4 linked regions of the Homo sapiens genome follow. The protein of the gene in region 2 purifies or fractionates together with the protein of the main gene of each other region. This does not show direct contact. Each region holds a gene or a part of one and is shown on either strand. Other genes may lie near its edges.

Region 1 (4,914 bases), on a different chromosome or scaffold from region 2:
CTGTGTCCAGGACTCAGTGGCACCTAACTGAGTACTCTGAGTTCCCTATGGTTCCATATTAGGACTAGCAGACTGTGCACCTGGGCAGAGGGGAACGTCTCCTGCAGCAGTCCCCCTCCAGGCCGCTGGGGAAGGGAGCTCTGGACTTGGAATCAGGCCCCTAAGCACAACTGCTGGTTCCACCATTTCTGAGGGGAGGCCTCCTCTCTCTCCTCACTTGGGCACGCACAGATGGCTCATATACTGGCAGATAGGGAAAGGGCCACATGTCTCCCACCCTTCTGCCCTACTCCTCTCCCCAGGGAACACAACTCTGACAGCAGAAAGTGGCTCAGCTCTGTGCCAGCTCGAACCCACTGACCCTCTGGAGGCCTGACTCTAGGCAGCTGCTCAAGGCCTGTAGACAGATGGGCCACCAGGCAGGAGCTGCTGCTGGGATTTGCTTTTGTGGCCTGGTGAGCTAATAAACACCAATAACTTCAGCCTCTGTGCCTCTTGCCAAGAAAGGCCCTCAAGTTGTCACCCAGCCACCACTGGGCTCTCAGAGTGCAGGGTTCCACCTCAAAGCCCTGCGCGGGGTTGGGATTTCTGCTACAGGTGCCCCTGCGTGCAGTCTTGACCTTCTGTGCCTTCTCAAAGCACAGGGCTAGGCCTCTCCTCAGGTGAGCACATCCCCCTCTGGACTGGGAGCCCCACAAAAGCAGCCATTCTCTCTCTCCACTGGCTCTAAGACAGGCCCTGTGGAAGAGCAGGAGGTGGCCTCTGCATGCTCCCCCGACAGAGCCCCAGGACCCAGGGCTCTCATTCTCTGGGAGCCCCAAGAGGGGTGGGTCCTTTCCCCTCAACCCACATACCACCCGGCCTCGTGTTTTACCAAAGACAGTCTTTCCCTGGGACTGGGCAGAGGGAAATCCCCCAGGGTTAAATAAGCGGCCACAGCAAGAGGTAGAGGGCAGGGACTGAAATGAGGACAAAGATCTGACAAGTTTAAAACATGTATTTAAAATACAATTTATAAAATGCTTAATCTGCCGACTCAGGAGCCCGCGGTGCAGGGTGGGGTGGGAGTGGGCAGCTGCCCGCTACACCAGCAGAGTAAGACTGCAGGGGTGCAGCCCTCCCTCCCATGCCCTTCTGTTCAGACACCCAAGGGGCCCATGTGCACCCCTGGGATCACACGACCAGAAAACAGGACCCCAGAGGTTTCTTGAGTCTCTGCTTACCAGGGAGGCTGGGTACAGCCCTGCCAGCCCATCCCTGAGCAGGGCACCCCCAGATGGGGCAGAGCAGGGTATGGCTGGGCAGGGCAGGGCTGGGCGGGGCAGATGGGCTCTGGAAGGGGCTGATGGTAGCAGATAGGGTGTTGCCTCCTGCCTGCAGGTGGGGAGCACCCTGATTGAGTGGGCTGAGAAAGGTTGGTCACCAGGCCTGGACCCCCCAGCTCCTTTGGTTATAGGCTGACATCAGAGTAGTGGCTCATGGGAAGCGGTTAGCTGGAAGGTCTGAGGCCTGGCCCATGGGGTCAGGGAGGAGCTGGGGGAAGGGGACAGTACCGTGAAGGCAGATAAAGGGGCAGCAGCCTCAGGTTTCTGCCCCCCATCCCCCTGGGGTTTTCCAAGCCAAAGCCTGCAACTTACTTTAAAAAAGAAAAGGAAAAAAAGCACTTAGGAAAGTTACAGACAACTACCCCCAAAAAATACCCTCCCACACACAAAATCCAAACCGTTTCCTCATCTCCCTCCCGCCTCCCCCGACACAATACAGTTTCCTGTTTTCTTTCTTTTTAAAAACGTTGCCTGCTACCTCTCCATTTGGGAAGCCCAGGGCATGACTGCTGGTGGGTGGTGACAGGCACACAGCGGGCAAAGCCCATCTTTGGCCAGAGGGAGGTGGGAGGACCAGTCCCTGCCACATCCTCAATCCACAGACACCCACCAGCCAGCCTTTACTTTGGCCTCCCACTAGAGGGTAGTGGGGCAAGAACAGGTGGTCCCAATGGCTGGGCAATCAGCACTTCTGGCGTTCCCACCTGGACTACCTCTATACCCTTCTCCAATTAAAAGGAAAGTCTCACTTTGGGCGGGAAACCACTATTACATAAGGGATGGACACTACACATTTAGAATGTGGACACTTGGTTAGGGCAGTGGAACTATAAAGATAGCAGCCAGTTTTCTTCCTTGCCTTCTCCTGAAGGTAATCCTCCCTCTTACTGACTGAAGCTCTGGTTCCAGCTCTGCTCATGGGCAATGCCTGGCTTTACAGTTATAAGGCTGTGCTATGGACTAGCTGCTGACTCAGCTGGCAGCTGGCCCTTCCTCCGGAGGAGAGGACGTGTTGGGGCATGGCTTACTGGGCCTGGCCTACCATTCCCACAGGGAACCAACGAGGGAGTGAGCCTGTGAGACTCAGCTTGCCACCTTGGCCACCACGTGCTGCCCTCATCACAAAAACCACACCAACCACTCCGAAACGTATCTGCTGGTCAGGAGCAGGGAGGCTGTCTGGCTGGCTGAGGGATAAGGCGCAGTGCAACGGAAGGGATCAGGAAGCCTGAGAGGAGCCAGGTACACACAGCTGCTCTGGGCAGCTGCCCTCTTAGTCTCTTCCACCTCAAGGAGCCAAAGCAAACCCCAGGCTCCAGGGACAGAGGATAAACTGCCTTCATTCCAGGCCCTCGCTCTGGAAAAAGGGGTGACGGGTAGCCTAGGCCTCTGAGGAACCAGTCTGTCATCAATCTTTGCAAAGCAAAGCTGTTCTTTTTCCAACTTTATTCAGAATGTTCTGCCTTCAAGGTACTGATTGCACACAGGAAATGTACCAGGTATAGTTACTGAGCTGGGGCCACCAATGGAGATGGAGCACTGCAGACCCCTAAGAGTTCAAGCCATGCTGGAGTGGGAAGACCTATCCACCTTCTGAACATACGAGGCAGAAGGCTCAGAGTCCTGGAGGCAGACTCTCTCCTGGTTTTCCTTGTGCTGATGGCAAAATACTAAACAAGTCTTCTCTCCGTCACTTCTAAGCCCAGGGATGCAATCTCACTCCCTGGCACTCTGCTTTCTTCTAGAAGTAGTAAGCCTGGCTGGTAGGGAACCACCCTGAGGGGTATGGGAAGGGGAAGTCGGTTCACTTTCCCTATCTCCCAAAATACTAGAGGTGGGGTTGGCACCCTCCCCAGGCTCTCCGAGCCTACAGAGCTAGCCCAGTCTCCAGGCAAGGCCCAGATGCCCTGGGACTTAGCTCGGGGAGGGAGGTATAGGCATGGGGTGCTCGTCTGTCCTGGCGGCTGCAGAGCCCTGCCCCTTTTCTGGGCGGCAGTAGGAATACAGAAGCTAAGCTCACCAAAATCCTATTGGTTAATGTTTCTAGTGAATTTCCCAGAAACATTTTTAAGTAGACTACCAAACTACCCTTTCTTAATTAAAAATTCATTAAACCACTAAAACCCCTCCCATGCACTTTTTCTTGCAAATCAGATATTTGTATAAACAAACAAAAATAGGAAGAAAAAAAAAAGAAAGGATATTTTCAAATGGAACTTACTTTTTAAGTGATGGAGACATGCACTTGGGGGTGGGTGGGTGTGAGTTTTCATTTGTGTTTTGAAATCCCAAATTAATGAGCATGATAAACTGTTATTGCTGGCACTGGCTTTACCCCAAGTGGCCAAGTGGCACTGTCTGACTCTCTGAGTCCTTGCTGGGTCCCCCCAACCTTCCCCTAACCCCCACCCTTTCCCTTTCCATTGACTTGGGACAGCCCTTGTCGATGTGCCAATCACAGTGGGAAGGGGGAGAAGGGGGGAGGTCACAGTGCATGGGGTTCAAGGTCACAGTGGGCGGAGCAAGGGGGATCACAGTGCAAGTAAGTCAGGTCGTTCCCTCTGCTCAAGTCCAGCTGTCTGCCACGGCAGTGCAACCCGTGGCGGACGACCCAGGAGGCGGTGACGGCAGCAACGGCGGCATCTTTTCTTGCCTGCATTTATCTGCGCTGTTTGAAGCCTTGAGACCCATCAGGACCCAAAGGCTGTCTGATCACATTATTGGGCTGCCTGCTGTCTTCGGGTTGGGAGATCCTGGTTGGCCTGAAAGGAAGAAAAGCAGAGGAAGGCCTGAAGAAGGATATAATAGATGTCCCCCATCATTTCTTTATTTTTTATTTATTTTTGAGACGGAGTCTCATTCTGTCACCTAGATTGGAGTGCAGTGGCACGATCTCCGCTCACTGCAACCCCCACCTCCTGAGTTCAAGTGATCCTCCTACCTCAGCCTACCGAGTAGCTGGGACTACAGGCATATGCTACCACACCCAGCTAATTTTTGTAATTTTAGTAGAGATGGGGTTTCACCATGTCGGCCAGGCTGGTCTTGAACTCCTGACCTCAAGTGATCCGTCCACCTCGGCCTCTCAAAGTACTGGGATTACTGCACCTGGCCTAGATGTCCCCCATCTTAAAATCAACTGTCCATATAGCTGGGCCCACGTCACTCTGGCTCCGCAAGCCTGCTTCTTTGGGAAGCTGACTCAGGGCACCTCCAAGTTGAGAGGCCCCTGTGAGCAGGCAGGGTCGGTGGTGCACATTCACCTCTAGCAGCTACAGCATCCTTTCCCCCTGCTCAGCTGCCATCATGCACTTGTAGGCAGGGGGAGTGCTTGAGGGCCCACTCTGCCCAGAGGCAGTGACCATGGATAGCACATGCTCCGCAGAACCATTTGGAATCTCCAGAGTGTTAGGCCAAAGTAAAGAACTGGAATCAAGAGCTCAGCAGAGGGACACATCCCCCGCCCCCCAATTCTTCCCTCCCACTCCTCTCCAAACTCTGCGGTTAACGGTTGACTCATATGACTATTTTTCCACCCTGGAAAGGTGAAGACTTAGAGGAGAAACAACAAAAAGAACAGGTATCTCTT
Region 2 (4,914 bases):
CAGCATGATCTTGATCTCCTGACCTCGTGATCCACCCGCCTTGGCCTCCCAAAGTGCTAGGATTACAGGCGTGAGCCCCCGTGCTCGACCACATTTTTTTTTAATGGAACCGCTGTGTTCGTATGACCGATTAACAAAACACTCAAGCTCACTCTTCTAACTTCAGAACACTAAAGCATTCCTTCTTTGCTCCCAATTGTAGGAACCTTGTAACTCTGAATGGCTTAACACAGAATATCATTTATTGGCAACAGAATCAAGCTTATTATAATCTGATGAAACTCACCTGGAACAGTAATTACTTTTTTAAACAGGAAAATATAGGCTTACACATTTTTCTAAAATTTTTTCTCTAGGAGAAATCCACAGCATATCAATGTAACACCTTTTATCCTAAAATTTTCAAGAGATGTTCTTTGCAATACCTGAAATAAAATTTCCTCCCTCCAATTCAAGTCTACTAGAAATATTATTTTATTTTGATTACCAGAGCCCTATATCAATACATATTACAGGGGAAAATAGACATACGAGGCTACATTTCTTAGCAATTCTTCTCATCTTCCATTGCAATTGTATTTTATAACAGTTTTTACCTTGCTGCTTTACAAATTTAGTGTTACTCTATTCTAGACTCATGTTTCAGGTAATGTCCAACTCACAAGTGAATTCATCAATCCTTTGCTGAGTTCAATTAAACTCTCACAAGGGGGAGAGTAGAAGGAACTTTTTATTCACAGAGCACCCCTTGAGTTTGGGTTTACTAAAACACTCATGTGTGCTTCAAGATATTTCAGTGACATTTAATTGAAACCATCATAAGGAGACTTAAAAGAAAATGCCATAACACACACCTGAGAACTAAATACTTCTCAGTAACACAAACCTGAGAAGATTCAATACACCCAGAGTAAGCATCTTCCAAGATTAACGGAGAAATCAAGAACAACTGCTTTTATTTTCATTTCTTGGGCAACCACAACAAAAACTATTTCAACAAACGTGCCTTGTAATGCTAATGCTACCAGAGCTCATAAAGAGGCAATTTATTATTTTCAGTTTATTGTCCAATAACAATTCATCAGCTTTGGGGCTTAGTTCATTAGTTCACAGGGATTCTTTTATTTGTTGAGGGTGATTTTAAAAGATGTTTTATAAAATTCCATAGTCTTTCATTTACATACTATCAAAGACCTGGAGACTTTGGCAGCTTTATTACTAAAAATTCAGCACACACAAAAGGGAAAATGAATCACAAAGTAAATAAATAAAACAGGGCCAGGCGCAGTGGCTCACGCCTGTAATGTCAACAATTTGGGAGGCTGAGACAGGCGGATCACCTGAAGTCAGGAGTTCGAGACCAGCCGGGCCAACGTGGTGAAACCCTGTCTCTACTAAAAGTACAAAAATTAGCTGGGCATGGTGTCGCACACCTGTAATCCCAGCTACTCGGGAGGCTGAGGCAGGACAATTGCTTGAACCCAGGAGGTGGAGGTTGCAGTGAGCCAAGATCTCACCATTGCACTCCAGCCTGGGAGGCAGAGCGAGACTCTGTCTCAAAAAAAAGGAAAAGAAAAAACAGGTAATCCTATGCAAGTCTAGTGCTTAGTCATAAAATACCTATTTCCAATTCAAAACTCACACTCAGTTTTCTGTTTTTAAACCACTGTCATGCATATGCAAATGTAAATTCAGCCATGGGCTGCAAGATTGGCCAATATTAACTAAGGAAAAACTTATACTAAAAGCATTTGTGTGAACCTTATATTCACTTGCAAAGCTATTTGGCATAAAATAAGAGTTAGACCAATTACAAAAGAAAATATTAGAAGTCACAGGTCTCAACATAGAAGATTTAAGTAGCACAAATGTAACTAATTAATAACATCTGAAGTACATTCTCCCACAGGACTGATGACCATCTGGTTGACCTTGCCCTAGATCAACAGGGAAGGCAAACCTGTAAATCACTGTTTTACAAATGTTATTACTCCATTATTTCACCACAAGAAAAAGGGATGGAACATGAATGGGAGAAGAGACTCATTGCTCTACACACCTTGAAATTGCCTATGATGCTTATTGCACCGGAAGTAACACAAGACTGAGTGGTTTCTTCTCAAGTTCCACCCAGAGAGAGACAGGCAGAGGACCAAGTTACAGTGATGGAGAAGAATTCAAGACAAAAGAGCCAGTAGGTAAAGTAATTACGAGAGAATCTAAAGGTACTTAGAGATATAAAACAAGTAATGCAAATGACCTCTGTCTAATACAACTTGAAACTATCTGAATTTCTGCAAAACACCTTTCAGTTGCTGATTTTTTATTGGAAAACAGTAATAGAACTTTAGAAATACGAACTAGAAGTATATGCCACATGTATTTAAATATATACTCTTAAATACATTAACCCCATACAAAGCTCTATATTTTGATGTTGAGAATAAACTACTTTGGAGGAAACTTAAAAACCTACTTGGTACAATAGTCAATGAGTCATCATTTGACTAATGAGAAACTTTAAATAATAATAAATTTGAACAGGCATTTCAAGCAGGTACACTGTGAAATCTCCTAAGAAAACTGTATTGAACCAAGGTTTAAAATTTGTACATTTTGACAACTGTTTTCGCCTGATACTTTCCCTATAACTTGTCTATGTAGTTCATTGTAGGAATGTTTAAAATTATTGAGTTACCAATCGTGCAATTTTATTAGATGTATTCTCACTGTTGATACATCTCTTTTAAACAGTATTCAAAACAAGTGATTTTCTATCTCTCTGATTATTTGCTCTGTTTTTCTCTCACTTCCTAAGAGTACCAGTAATACACCTGAGAAGAACAAAATATCAGGAATTATAGAACTTTGAGATCAACAACTCATGTCATATTCTACATAAGTTACAAATCAAGGCAAGTCTTATTCTGCAAGAATCTGTTTTAAGTTTGAGTGCATTTAAAATATTAGGCATATATTATTTTAAATCCCATCATTACTTCTAGTCACTGTATAGCATAGCTGTCACTGTCTTACACAGTTCTGAAGTCTGGTTCTAAAAGATTATACTATGTAATTTCCTTCTGTAAAATATGAATTGCAATTGCTTTTTCAAATACAGAATTGGTTCATTATCTCTAGTAACACACTTTTTGTTGATATTTACATTAGTTTGGATTAATTTTCATGTAATGGAAAAGAAAGCAGGTAGAGACATCTAATCTATTAGGTCACTCCATCTCTATATATACTAGGAGAAATATAGAAAATAGAGGGGAAATTGCACTACTTCTTAATGCCCTTTCTCTTTTATTTGAAAACGTATTTCATAGTTCTAACTTGGGAGGAAAAGTGTGGGTAGTCTGTAAGATGCTTTAGTAATTAAGGGGCTAAAAAGGATACCTCAAAGGGTCTGTTTTTCCATTCTTCACAACTTAACTGCATAGCTATGGGTTTTAAGGGGAAATGCCTTGCATGGAGGCTAAGGAAGCAATTAGAAGCTCACACATTCTAAGTTCCAAATATGGCTCCTTCGGTGCTTATGACAACCTTGGGGAAAGCACTGGTGACTTAAAAAGAAAAAAAGGACAGCCATTTGACTGGCAAGTGTCAGTCATTCTGCTATTTGAAATTTGAGGCCAGGCGTGGTGGCTCACCTCGGGAGGCGGAGGCGGGCAGATCACAAGGTCAGGAGATCGAGACCATCCTGGCCAACATGGTGAAACTCCGTCTCTACTAAAAATACAAAAATTAGCTCGGTGTGGTGGCACGCACCTGTAATCCCAGCTACTGGGTAGGCTGAGGAAGGAGAATGGCTTGAACCTGGGAGGTGGAGACTGCAGTGAGCCGAGATCGTGTCACTGCACTCCAACCTGGTGACAGCGTGAGACACTGTCTCAAAAAAAAAAAAAAAAAAAGGAATTTGAGACAAAGTTTCAGAGACACTCTGCTATAGAAAGGTCTGAGAATATATTGTTTATCAAATGAAAGAAAAAGTACTTGCAATGACACTAAAGTTTATGCAGAGTTGAAAGAAGTAATAAAATTATAAATGACCTTGATTGGCAGGATGGTGTTCCTCATCCATGTCTTGCTCCATCTGTCCAATTAGTATGGGTTACTTGACTAACCAAATTCATTCATCTGTAAGTCCTTTGAACTATATACATTAAAGCTCATGCAAACCATTCCCTCAGAAGACCTTGCACCTTTTATGTATGTGAAAATCTGAAATCACACCCATTTCCCTAAGCTTCTGAGAACATTTGTATACAACAACCATCAAAAGCATATTTCCAATTATTCTTTTAGGTCCTTTTCAATTAATTAGGGGACTATGCCAATCTCAGGAAATCCTTGTGGAAAAAGAAGAAACACCATTAGAACAACACACGGAGTAACCAGTTTTGAGACTAATGCCCAAAAAATTAATTGGGAGAATTTTTTAGTAATTGAACCTGCATAGCTCTCTCTGCTGCTGAGGATTAGCACAAAGGGGCAATTTCTTAACATTACCAGGTGAACAGTAAGATCAAAGATGCTAGGCTTTGAGCTCGTGCCCATCTCCTCTGTGAGTACACAGGCAAGCACAGAAGAATTATTTTACAAAAAGCAGCATATATTATAAGCATTTTCATAAATACCTCAAATCCAACAGAGGATCTTTGTCTATTAACCAATCATTTAAAATAGCTATTGTCCTCCAAAACGCAGCCCAGTAAATATTTTTAAAATTAATATCCAGTAATATTTATACTCTTAATTTCTGAATCTGGATAAGGAAGATAACAAAACTTAAAATAACATTTTTCCCAGAGTGTTTATCAACTCTCTTACCATCAAATGTTAAATAAACTCTTGCTTGGGGCTGGGAAGATCCTTTCACACAGATAGAACAAATAAATACTCCAACCA
Region 3 (4,914 bases), about 47 Mb from region 2:
CAAGTAAAGGGGACAGTGAACTCAGGCTCACTCACAGCCACTCCCAGGAAGGGGCTTAGACTCAAAAGAGCCTAGGTTTTGGGACCAGAGCACCAAATGGTACAATATGAATTGACAAACAGACCTGGACTCACTTCTGAGCCAGCAGGAATTCAGAGTTTTCCCTGAAAGCCCAGTCTCATTCTTTTGGTTAATCTTCCACAATAGTCTTACTCTGATAAGCAGGTTCTCTTACACTTTTTTTTTGAGACGAAGTCTCGTTTTGTTGCCCAGGCTGGAGTGCAGTGGGGTGATCTCGGCTCACTGCAACCTCTGCCTCCCAGGTTCAAGAACCTGCCTCAGCCTCCCAAGCAGGTGGGATGACAGGCGCCCACCACCAAGCCCAGCTAATTTTTGTATTTTTAGTAGAGATGGGGTTTTGCATGTTGGCCAGGCTGGTCTCAAACTCCTGACTGCAAGCAATCCACCCAAAGTGCTGGAATTACAGGCAAGAGCCACTGCACCCAGCCTTTTTCTTACACTTTTATCATGAACACAGGAGTTGTTTCAATACTCTCACCCAGGTTATACAACGCCCCTACTCACCCAACACTACCACATCTTACCTATAGCAGAAACAGACTGTGTATCTTTATATTTATCCTTTGCCACGGCCCAATCCACAGCCACTGTCCGGCCTGTCAAGCAGAAAAGTGGCATCAGAAAGGCTCTCCTTTTAAAAACCCTACCTCTGTAAATGACCCCTAGTCATCACAGACAATAATGGAACCAGTGGAGACAAAGAAACTGCCAATTCAGGGAATGCTGGTCTTAAAATAAAGCTCCTAGTCACTGCCTACTCCTTTTAACCCTTAACCTTTTTATCAATGAACAGAAATTTTGCCTTTCTACATAGCCACCACACCTGGGATAAGATGGAGTAAAAAAATAAAGAATTAGAACTATGTTTCCAGTTAGACTATCAGGAATCAAAACAGGCATTCTGGAATCATCTGCACCCTACCTGGAAGCTAGGACATCTCTACGGCAATAACTTCTTTTTTTTTTTTTTGAGACACAGTCTCGCTCTGTCGCCCAGGCTGGAGTGCAGTGGTGCCATCTCAGTTCACTGCAACCTCCGCCTCCAGGTTCAAGCGATTCTCCTGCCTCAGCCTCTTGAGTAGCTGGGATTACAAGCATGCACCACCACACCTGGCTAATTTTTGTATTTTCAGTAGAGACGGGGTTTCGCCATGTTGACCAGGCTGGTCTTGAACTCCTGACCTCAGGTGATCCACCTGCCTCCTCGGCCTCCCAAAGTGCTAGGATTACAGGTGTGAGCCACCGCACCTGGCCGGCAATAACTTCTTTAGGCACAGTACTTGATAAGTCAATATATAAATCACAGTCAGTTTAATAAATAGCCCACAGATGCTGAACAGTGATATAACCAAGGAGGAATCTAGATACCAACCTGCATCTATCAGCAATTATCTCAGGGACATTTTTCACTAGGGATTTAAAAGGACACTCTCACCAGATAAAAGAAAGAATACTGGCAAGGGTTCTTTCAAGTTTAACCCCAAGATCAAGTTCTAGAGTATTTCACCTAAATAGCTACCGTATTAGCAATGAGACTCTTAATAATGCAAACATCTTTTGAAAATGCAGAAAGTGGGTTACTACACTAATTCACCAAAACACCAGAAATATCTGGGTCAATGATATGGGTATAGAAAGCTTACCTTTTATCTCTTTCATGTTCATGCCTTTGAGAGCTTTACCTGCTTCTAGGAGGTTTTTGAACTGAACAAAACCAAAACCGCGCATCTTCCCATCTGTGTGCAAATGCACAAAGAAAGAAGTGAGAGGCAGCAGGAGGTAGCCAGAATACTAAGAAGTAAATTACTGCAATTCAGGCCCACAAGATGGCCCAAATTCTGCCAGCAGGTCAGGCCCTTCCCCAAAGCAATTGCTTACATCTTCTTACTGAGTATACTCTGACTTGGACTTGGGGAGAGCAAAACACTTTCTCAAACTAACTCGCCTTCTAAAACTAATTCTGATCCAACAGAAAATATCATCAGGGGAATAAAACCATTATTTGGGTTTTCATTAGATGTGAAGCACTGTGCCAAATACTTCATATATATCATATATGTTTGTTCAAGGGTAATATGTTAACTAACGTAATCCACACCAAGTGAAGGTTTATTAGTACCTGGTTTCCTAGGGATATTTACTTCCAGGACAGCTCCAAATTGAGCAAATACTGTCTTCAAGTCATCTTCTGAACACTGAAGCCAAAAGTGAAGAAAGAAAAAGAGAAACACAATCACAGCAAATTAACATAAAACATCAACTACTAAATTCATTAATTATGAAAAACATGAATGTTTACTTTTTTTTATTTTTGATACTAGGACATCAAATGTTTCTAAATAGAAGACATTTTACTTTGTACCTAAGAGGCAAAAACACAGACGTCTGAGAACTTTTTCTACCTTTTCTTTCTCAGTAGTAGTTTCCCCAAAAAGGAAAGCAGCTTCACACTTAGTGCCCTTATTACACAGGCCCACTTTCTGAATTCAACAGGGGTAAGGTTGATTCCCAGAAGGAATTAAGCCCAATTATACCATCTTGGTGAGGAGTTCTACTAATGATCACATCTTGGCTCTAAAAGCCTTCAAAACATGCAATGTTCATTTTCTCTCTCACTTACCTTAAAGCTCAGGTTCCGAATAATTAATCTGGCTTTCTTATCTGCCACTTTGGCTTTTTTAGCCTTCGGCTCCTTCTTTGGGCACTCTGAGTTTTCTAAAAAATAAGAGGTAATGGAATAAGTACTCGAAAATCACCCACTTCTACGCCAGAACATCACAGAAAAAAAAGCTACTGGCGACAGATGGCATTTACCACAGGGTTAAGTGTGGCAATAATACCAAGGAATACCAGATTTTTCCAAAGAACTAAAATGAGTATCACAATACACTGGATGATTTTGGAGATCAAAAAGAAATGCAAAAAGCTTTAAGTTCTAGAAGCTACCTCCATGCCTCCCTCTTTCATTTTCATAGTGCTCCTCCTCACCCTGGGAGAAAAACTTCCTTCAATTACTAGAAACTCACCATTTTTCCCCTTTTCCTTTGTCTTGTTCCTCAGTTTTTTCTTGGCAACAGTCACGTTGATCTTGCAACCTTCAAAGGTGGTAATCTCCTTGAGGGCCCTCTGAACATCTTCCAGCATTGAAAAAGTGACATAGCCAAAGCCTCGACATGCCTTACTCCCTGGAATAATGGAGTGGGGAGGGAGTGGAGGGGCAGTGTGAAAAGGAGAGAGAATCATAAGCCAAGAGCACTAAATGAGTAAATCCTCAAAGCCTAAGCTAGAGGATATACTGCCAACCCATCTTGCTATCAGTTTGCCAAAAGTCTCAGGAGGGCGAGAAACAAGGGTGGTATCAGTGGTTCCCTCCCCACTTTGCTTAGAAACTGTTAGCCTTCCTCCTCTTTTAATTTAGTGTCTTTGCTGTTAGCTCCCCTTCTTCCCCCTTTCTTGATAATCCCAAGAAAACAGAGAATCCATGACATATGAGGCCCTCAAAGAACTCAACATCAAAAAGAACAAAACATCACCAAAGAAGGCAGGAAAGGTAAGTATATGCTATGGTTTGAATGTGTCCCCCAAATTTCATGTGTTGGAAACTTAATCCCCAATGTAGCAGTATTGAAAGGTGGAGTCTTTAAGAGGTGACTGGATCAGAGGACTCTGTCTTCAGGAATGGATTAATCAATTTATGGATTAATGGGTTAATAGATTAATGGGCTATCATGAGAGTGGAGCTGGGGGCTTTATAAGAAGAGGAAGAGAGACCTGAGCAAGCACATTAGCATGCTCAGCCCCCTCGCCATGACACCCTGCACTGTCTGGGCATTTTGCAGAGTCCCCACCAACAAGAAGGCTCTCACCAGATACAGCCACTAAACTTTGGACTTCTCAGCCTCCAGAACTTAAGAAATAAATTTTTCTTTACAAAGTACCTAGTTTCAGGTATTCTCTTATAAGCAACAGAAAATGAATTAAGACAGTATGGTAGCTTCAAAAATCAGAACACAATAATGCAGTTACTCCTCAAAATAGATCAGCAATAAATGCCTGAGGCCCAGACAAAAGAACCTCAAACAATAAATACTGCTCAGAGAGACTGCAGATGTTATGACCACTATTACCAACGCCTTAGCTGTCGATATCAAATTAAACCTTTCCAAAGCAGCTGTGCATTCTTGTCTCATTTTATCTTTAGAACACCTCAAAATAGGTAAAGCAAATATTATCACCCCTTCTTTCCAAGTAAGTAATTTGAGATGGAAGACAGTAAGTGAATTGGTTAATGTCACACAGGGTGTTAGTAGCTGAATTAACTCCTCCTCACCAGCCCCCATGTTCTTCCATAGGACTCCACAAAGAATAATATTAGGACCAAGGAGATGAAAACTACAAATATCAACTGTAACCCACCTTTGCCCTTTTTGGTTTAACATTTTGTATAGTAAAATTTTAAATAATTTATTGCATCAAAAAGGAAAAGGACAGATCAAGAAGTCTGCCTTTACCTGAAAAGGACACATAGTTCATATGCTCTGCTTCTCTTTCCACTGCATTTGAATCTCCTTCAGGGTATAAGCCCTTTGACACAGGACACTGATCTACATAAACTGGTTAAAGCAACATAACATCAATTTTTCTCTTCTCTTGAACTCCTTATCATAAAAGCTGCCCACTCACCTTTCAGAAAATGAGCACAAGAAAATTCATAGCCCTTCATGATCAGTACAACCAAAAGTAAAGCAGCTGAAATGTAAAAGAGTTTGACACCCAAATGAAAGGACATACAGTAAATACCACACATTTTACATGTCTGCATAAAGCATGCTC
Region 4 (5,519 bases), on a different chromosome or scaffold from region 2:
AATAATACAAAAATTAGTCAGGCGTGGTGGCACATGTCTGTAGTCCTAGCAACTTGGGCGGCTGAGACTTGGGTGGCTGAGACAGGAGAATCGCCTGAACCTGGGAGGTAGAGGTTGCAGTGAGCTGAGATCGTGCCACTGCACCCCAGCCTGGGTGACAGAGAAAAGGAAAAAAAAAGGCCAGGTGTGGTGGCTCATGCCTGTAAGCCCAGCACTTTGGGAGGCCGAGGTGGGCGGATCATGAGGTCAGGAGATCGAGACCATCCTGGCTAACACGGTGAAACCCCCGTCTCTACTAAAGATACAAAAAATCAGCCGGGTGTGGTGGTGGGCGCCTGTAATCCCAGCTACTCGGGAGGCTGAGGCAGGAGAATGGCGTGAACCCAGGCGCCACTGCACTCCAGCCTGGGCGACAGAGTGAGACTCTGTCTCAAAAAAGAAAAAAAAGAAAAAAGAAAAGAAAGAAAAGGCAGGTTCCTCCTGACAGGTGACCTGCTCCACATCGGCTTCTTCTGCCCTAAGAGGAGCCCTGAAGTTGGTCACGATAGGAATATTCCTGCTTCTTATTCATTCGTTTTAAAAATATTCACAGAAAACATTTATTTTAGAGAGTTAGAAAGACACAAAAGCTGAAAGATAAAACTTACCCAAAGCTCATTTTATCATTTTTTTTTTAATTGAGACAGAATCTTGCCCTGTCACCCAGGCTGGAGTGCAATGGCACGATCTTGGCTCACTGCAACCTCTGCCTCCAGGTTTCAAGCAATTCTCCTGCCTTGGTAGGAGAATCCCTCCTTAGTAGCTGGGATTACAGGTGTGCACCACTGCGCCCGGCTAATTTTTTTTTTTTCTTTTTTGAGATGGAGTCTTGCCCTGTCACCCAGGCTGGAAGGCAGTGGCACTATCTCAGCTCACTACAACCTCCACCTCCCTGGTTCAAGAATTCCTCTGCCTCAGCCTCCCGAGTAGCTGGGATTACAGGCCCATGCCACCATGCCCGGCTAATTTTTTTATATTTTTAGTAGAGACAGGGTTTCACCATGTTGGCCAGGCTGGTGTTGAACTCCTGACCTCAGATGATCCACCTGCCTCAGCCTCCCAAAGTGCTGGGATTACAGGCGTGAGTCACCGCGCCCAGCGCATCATCATTTTTAACAATTTGCTGTATTTGTACCTGGTCCTTTACTCAAATGCCTGTTTTAAAAAAAGTCCTAGACCTATAATCACACATTAGATTTTAAAATATGCCCTTTCAGCTGTCTAACCTACATCTACACAGAATTAGTACGTGTATTTTTTTTTTAAGACAGGGTTTGCTCTGTTGCCCAGGATGGAGTACAGTGGCACAATCACAGCTCACTTCAGTCTCAACCGCCCAGGCTCAAGCAATCCCCCTGCCTCAGCCTCCCAAATAGCTGAGACTATAAGCTACGCAAGCATTTTGACAAGATACAGGAGGGTTGGCACAGAGATTTAAAGAAGCCAAGTTCTAACACAGGACAGCACAGAGACACCAATACACGGGACAAAATATACCCAGGCTGGGAGGATGAGCTGCCACTGATTGGGGATGTGGTGTGTAACAAACTGAGTACTAGGGGCCGGGCACAGTGGCTCACGCCTGTAATCCCAGCACTTTGAGAGGCCAAGGCAGGGGAATCACAAGGTCAGGAGTTTGTGACCATCCTGACCAACATGGTGAAACCCCGTCTCTACTAAAGATACAAAAAATCAGCTGGGTATGATGGTGCGTGCCTATAATCCCAGCTACTTCGGAGGCTGAGGCAGGGCAATCGCTTGAACCCGAGAGGCAGAGTTTGCAGTGAGTCAAGACTGCGCCATTGCACTCCAGCCTGGGTGACAGGGCAAGACTCCGTCTCAAACAAAAAACAAATCGAGTACTCTACAGAGGCCGGCGAGATACAGGAAGGGCAAGTGAGCCAGGTCAAACACAAAATAAACAAACAACTCAGATGCCCACAGCAGAGTCCCTTGGCAGGGCAGGCTGGGAACAGGAGAGGCACCCATGGCGCAGCTCACAGCATTCCATCAGTCCTCTCTTGTTCAGCCCGTAGGCTTCTAAGAGCTACCTGAGTCCTCCTGTTATGTGGATGAAGTCAGTATGCAGGGGCCTCACCACCCACGCCAAGGTCAGCTTAGGTTTCTATCAGTGCAGTTAGGCCCAGGTTCATCCTGGTTCTGCCTGTAATTCATGGACAACCTTCAAGTCAAGTAGGTTCAACTCTGAGCCTCAGTTTCCCCACTTGTCAAGGAAGCTAGTTGGATCTTACTTCTGAGACTTCTCCTAGTTCTAAAACTATAGGACCCTTCATTGGTAGAGAAATGACTGGTAATGTGGCAGAAGGTCTTGGCACAGCCTAGGTGAAGGCAGTATACTCACAGATTCATCCCAGGACAGGATCCCACGTCCTAAGCAGCCGAGCCCTGCATCAGACCCTCAGCAGGCCACAATGGGAGGCCCGGGGAGGCCAGCATCCTCAAAAAACATCCCCACTGCACCCACCGCTGTCCACCCACCACTCAGAGTCCTGGGGAAGAAGGGAGAGTGCAGAGGCCCTTTTAGGACGCTGTGGGGGGGGGGCAGAGATATGTCCCCACCCTCCCACGTCCTCCAGTACAAAGTGCACAGATGTGCTGCCATCTATTGCTAAGGTCATGGCGCAATTTAAAAAGCTTTCCCCATGGCCGGGCGCGGTGGCTCACGCCTGTAATCCCAGCACTTTGGGAGGCCGAGGCGGGCGGATCACGAGGTCAGGAGATCGAGACCATCCTGGCTAACACGGTGAAACCCCGTCTCTACTAAAAAATACAAAAAAAATTAGTCGAGGGCAGTGGCGGGCGCCTGTAGTCCCAGCTACTCGGGAGGCTGAGGGACGAGAATGGCGTGAACCCGGGAGGCAAAGCTTGCAGTGAGCCGAAATAGCGCCACTGCACTCCAGCCTGGGCGACAGAGCGAGACTCCGCCTCAAAAACAAAACAAAACAAAACAAAACAAAACAAAAAAACAGCTTTCCCCAATTAAAAAACCTTCCCCTAGACCTCCACAGAAGGGGCCGCGGCCTCTCTCGGCAGGCATACCTGGGTCAGCGTGGCATCGAACAGCTTGCAGGCTTCGTTGCTTGTGGTGGAGAGCGGGAGCCTCGCATCCTTCCAGGCCTACAGACGGCAAGAAGGGAATAGCAGTGCCTTCTCTCCAGGAGCCCTTCAAACTTCAACACACACACGTCTCCTGGCCCCTCTGACCTCCACCTTCCTCATCTGTAAAATGGGCTCAGGCTCCCAGTCCTGGGCCGGTTCCAAGGAGCCCCTTACCTTTGCGGGCTTCCCTGCGTCCCCAGCCATGCCCAGTGAGCTACGTTTTTTAGGAGGTCTTGGGGTCTCCCGAGTACCCTGACAGGCGTCCCTTATTTCCCTCGGTGGGGACTCTACAAGAAGGGCCTCGGGTCCCTTCCAGGCGTTGCCGCGGACGCGCCCGTGCGCCCAGGGCTCACCCCACGCCCCGCGCCCGGGCCATGTCTCCCGTTATTCCGCCAGCACCGGGCCACCCCCAGGACCCGGGGCCCGAGGGGGACCTGGTTGGGGGCAGCCTCCGTGTACCTGGCAGTCGCGCAGAGGCGAGGCTGCGGCCATGTTGCGCCGGGTCGGAGTCCACCGCGAGCTCTGGGCACCCGGGCCTTCCTGGGAGTGGGCGGGGCGGTCGCGGAAAGGGGCGGGGCGGGGCGGCCGCGCTCTCCCGCTCGCTCACTGGTGGGTTTCGGACAGACTGGCCCTGGTCCAGGATCCGGGCCCGCCCCAGAGGCCCGACCGGACAACTCTGCAACGCGACGGGTCCCTTGGGAGCAGGGAGCTCCGGGACAGCGGTCACTTTCAAGTTTATGTCGTTGCGGTCGGCAGCTACCCGCGCGCGCACGGCACACACTCACTTGGCGTTCGGGGCCGGCTTCACTGGGTCGTCCCGCCGCCTCCATCCTCCCTTCTCAAGGATTTGCAGCGGAAAAATCGCTCTGTCTCCTGCAGTAGCGGCTTCTCCCTCTGGACTGGCCCGGTCTGGCCCGGCCTGAACTCTGCCATCAGCCACACACCAGCCCCAGTCCAATGGGCTCCCCTAGTTTAATTTGCCCCCGCCCCAGGGTGCACGAATCAAGGGCGTAGAACCAAGTGCACGGGCAGATCTGGCCTTTATTTAAAATGCTATTTTGTTCATCATGGACTTTTTGCATTAGTTTTGATTTTTGAAATATTGCACTGAAGTATTATTTGTTTTATGTGAGAGCTGTAAAGATAAAACTCTTAGAAGAAAACAGAAGTAAATCTTCATGGCCTTGGATTTAGCAATGGATTCTTAGATGTAACACCAAAAGGACAAGCAACAACAACAAAATAGATAAGTTGGACTTCGTCAAAATTAAAAACTTTTCTGAATCAAAGGACACTACTCAGGAAACTGAAAAGATTAACACAATGGGAAAAAACATTTGTAAATCATATATTGGGTAAGAGTCTAGAATCCAGAATACATAAAGAAATCTTGGCCGGGCACAGCAGCTCATGTCTGTAATCCCAGCCCTTTGGGAGGCTGAGTCAGGTGGATCACCTGAGGTCAGGAGTTCAAGACCAGCCTGGCCAACATGGTGAAACCTTATCTCTATTAAAAGTACAAAAATAGCCAGGCGTGGTGGTGCATGCCTGTAATCCCAACTACTTGGGTGGCTGAGGCAGGAGAATCGCTTGAACCCGGGAAGTGGAGGTTGGAGTAAGCCAAGATTGTGCCACTGCACTCCAACCTGGGCAACAGAGCCAGACTCTGTCTCAAAAAAAAAGAATTCTTACAACTCAACAGCGAAATGACAAACAGCCCAAATTTAAAGTGGGCAAAGAATTTGAGGTGACAGTTCTCCAAAGAAGACACACCTTTCCTACAGCGTTTTCAAGGTTCATTCATACTGAAGGAAGAGGCAGACACAAAAGGTAACACTTGTATTAGTGCATTTACATGCATGTCCAGAATACGCAAACATAGAGACAGAAAGAAGATTGGTGGTGACCAGGGACTGAGGGGATAGGGATGATAAGTCACTGAAGCCTTGAACTCCTGGCTCCAGCAATCCTCCCACCTCAGCCTCCCATAAATGGTTACTTTTATGTGAACTTTACCTCAATAAAAGAGAATTTGTCTTGATTATTGAGTTTTTGGTGCCCCTCCACCCTTAAATTTTGCACTTGAGCTGAGTACTAATATGGACTAATACAGTAAATTGGTACCATTAGAGTGGGGTGTTGCCAAAAATATACCTGAAAATGTGGAAGCAACTTTGGAACTGGGTAACAGGCAGAGGTTGGAACAGTTTGGAGGGCTCAGAAGACAGGAGTATGTGGGAAATTTTGGAACTTCCCAGATACTTGTTGAATGGCTTTGCCCAAAATGCTGATAGTGATATGGACAATAAGGTACAGGCTGAGGTGGTCTCAGATGGGGATGAGGAACTGGAGCAAAGGTG

Evidence for each region. Proteins that work in one complex are often made in the same cells at the same time.
Region 1: the proteins of SEMA3C (region 2) and SZRD1 purify together in Homo sapiens (co-immunoprecipitation; one large-scale study listed by IntAct). This does not show direct contact.
Region 3: the proteins of SEMA3C (region 2) and RBM28 purify together in Homo sapiens (affinity purification with mass spectrometry; one large-scale study listed by BioGRID and IntAct). This does not show direct contact.
Region 4: the proteins of SEMA3C (region 2) and TTC38 purify together in Homo sapiens (affinity purification with mass spectrometry; one large-scale study listed by BioGRID and IntAct). This does not show direct contact.

The regions. Positions count from the first base shown.
Region 1 is NC_000001.11:16,394,211-16,399,124, reverse strand, and holds the end of SZRD1 (SUZ RNA-binding domain-containing), read right to left. Parts: intron 4,088-4,914; coding exon 3,985-4,087; 3' UTR 980-3,984; downstream 1-979. Other genes in the region: SPATA21 (spermatogenesis-associated protein 21), read left to right, coding at 303-360.
Region 2 is NC_000007.14:80,911,843-80,916,756, forward strand, and holds part of SEMA3C (semaphorin-3C isoform 2 precursor), read right to left. Parts: coding exon 4,837-4,914; intron 1-4,836. UniProt on the Homo sapiens protein: Binds to plexin family members and plays an important role in the regulation of developmental processes. Required for normal cardiovascular development during embryogenesis.
Region 3 is NC_000007.14:128,336,526-128,341,439, forward strand, and holds part of RBM28 (RNA-binding protein 28), read right to left. Parts: intron 3,267-4,914; coding exon 3,108-3,266; intron 2,797-3,107; coding exon 2,702-2,796; intron 2,277-2,701; coding exon 2,201-2,276; intron 1,818-2,200; coding exon 1,725-1,817; intron 678-1,724; coding exon 606-677; intron 1-605. UniProt on the Homo sapiens protein: Nucleolar component of the spliceosomal ribonucleoprotein complexes.
Region 4 is NC_000022.11:46,266,172-46,271,690, reverse strand, and holds the start of TTC38 (tetratricopeptide repeat protein 38), read right to left. Parts: upstream 3,684-5,519; 5' UTR 3,652-3,683; coding exon 3,619-3,651; intron 3,178-3,618; coding exon 3,100-3,177; intron 2,550-3,099; exon of another isoform or gene 2,402-2,549; intron 1-2,401.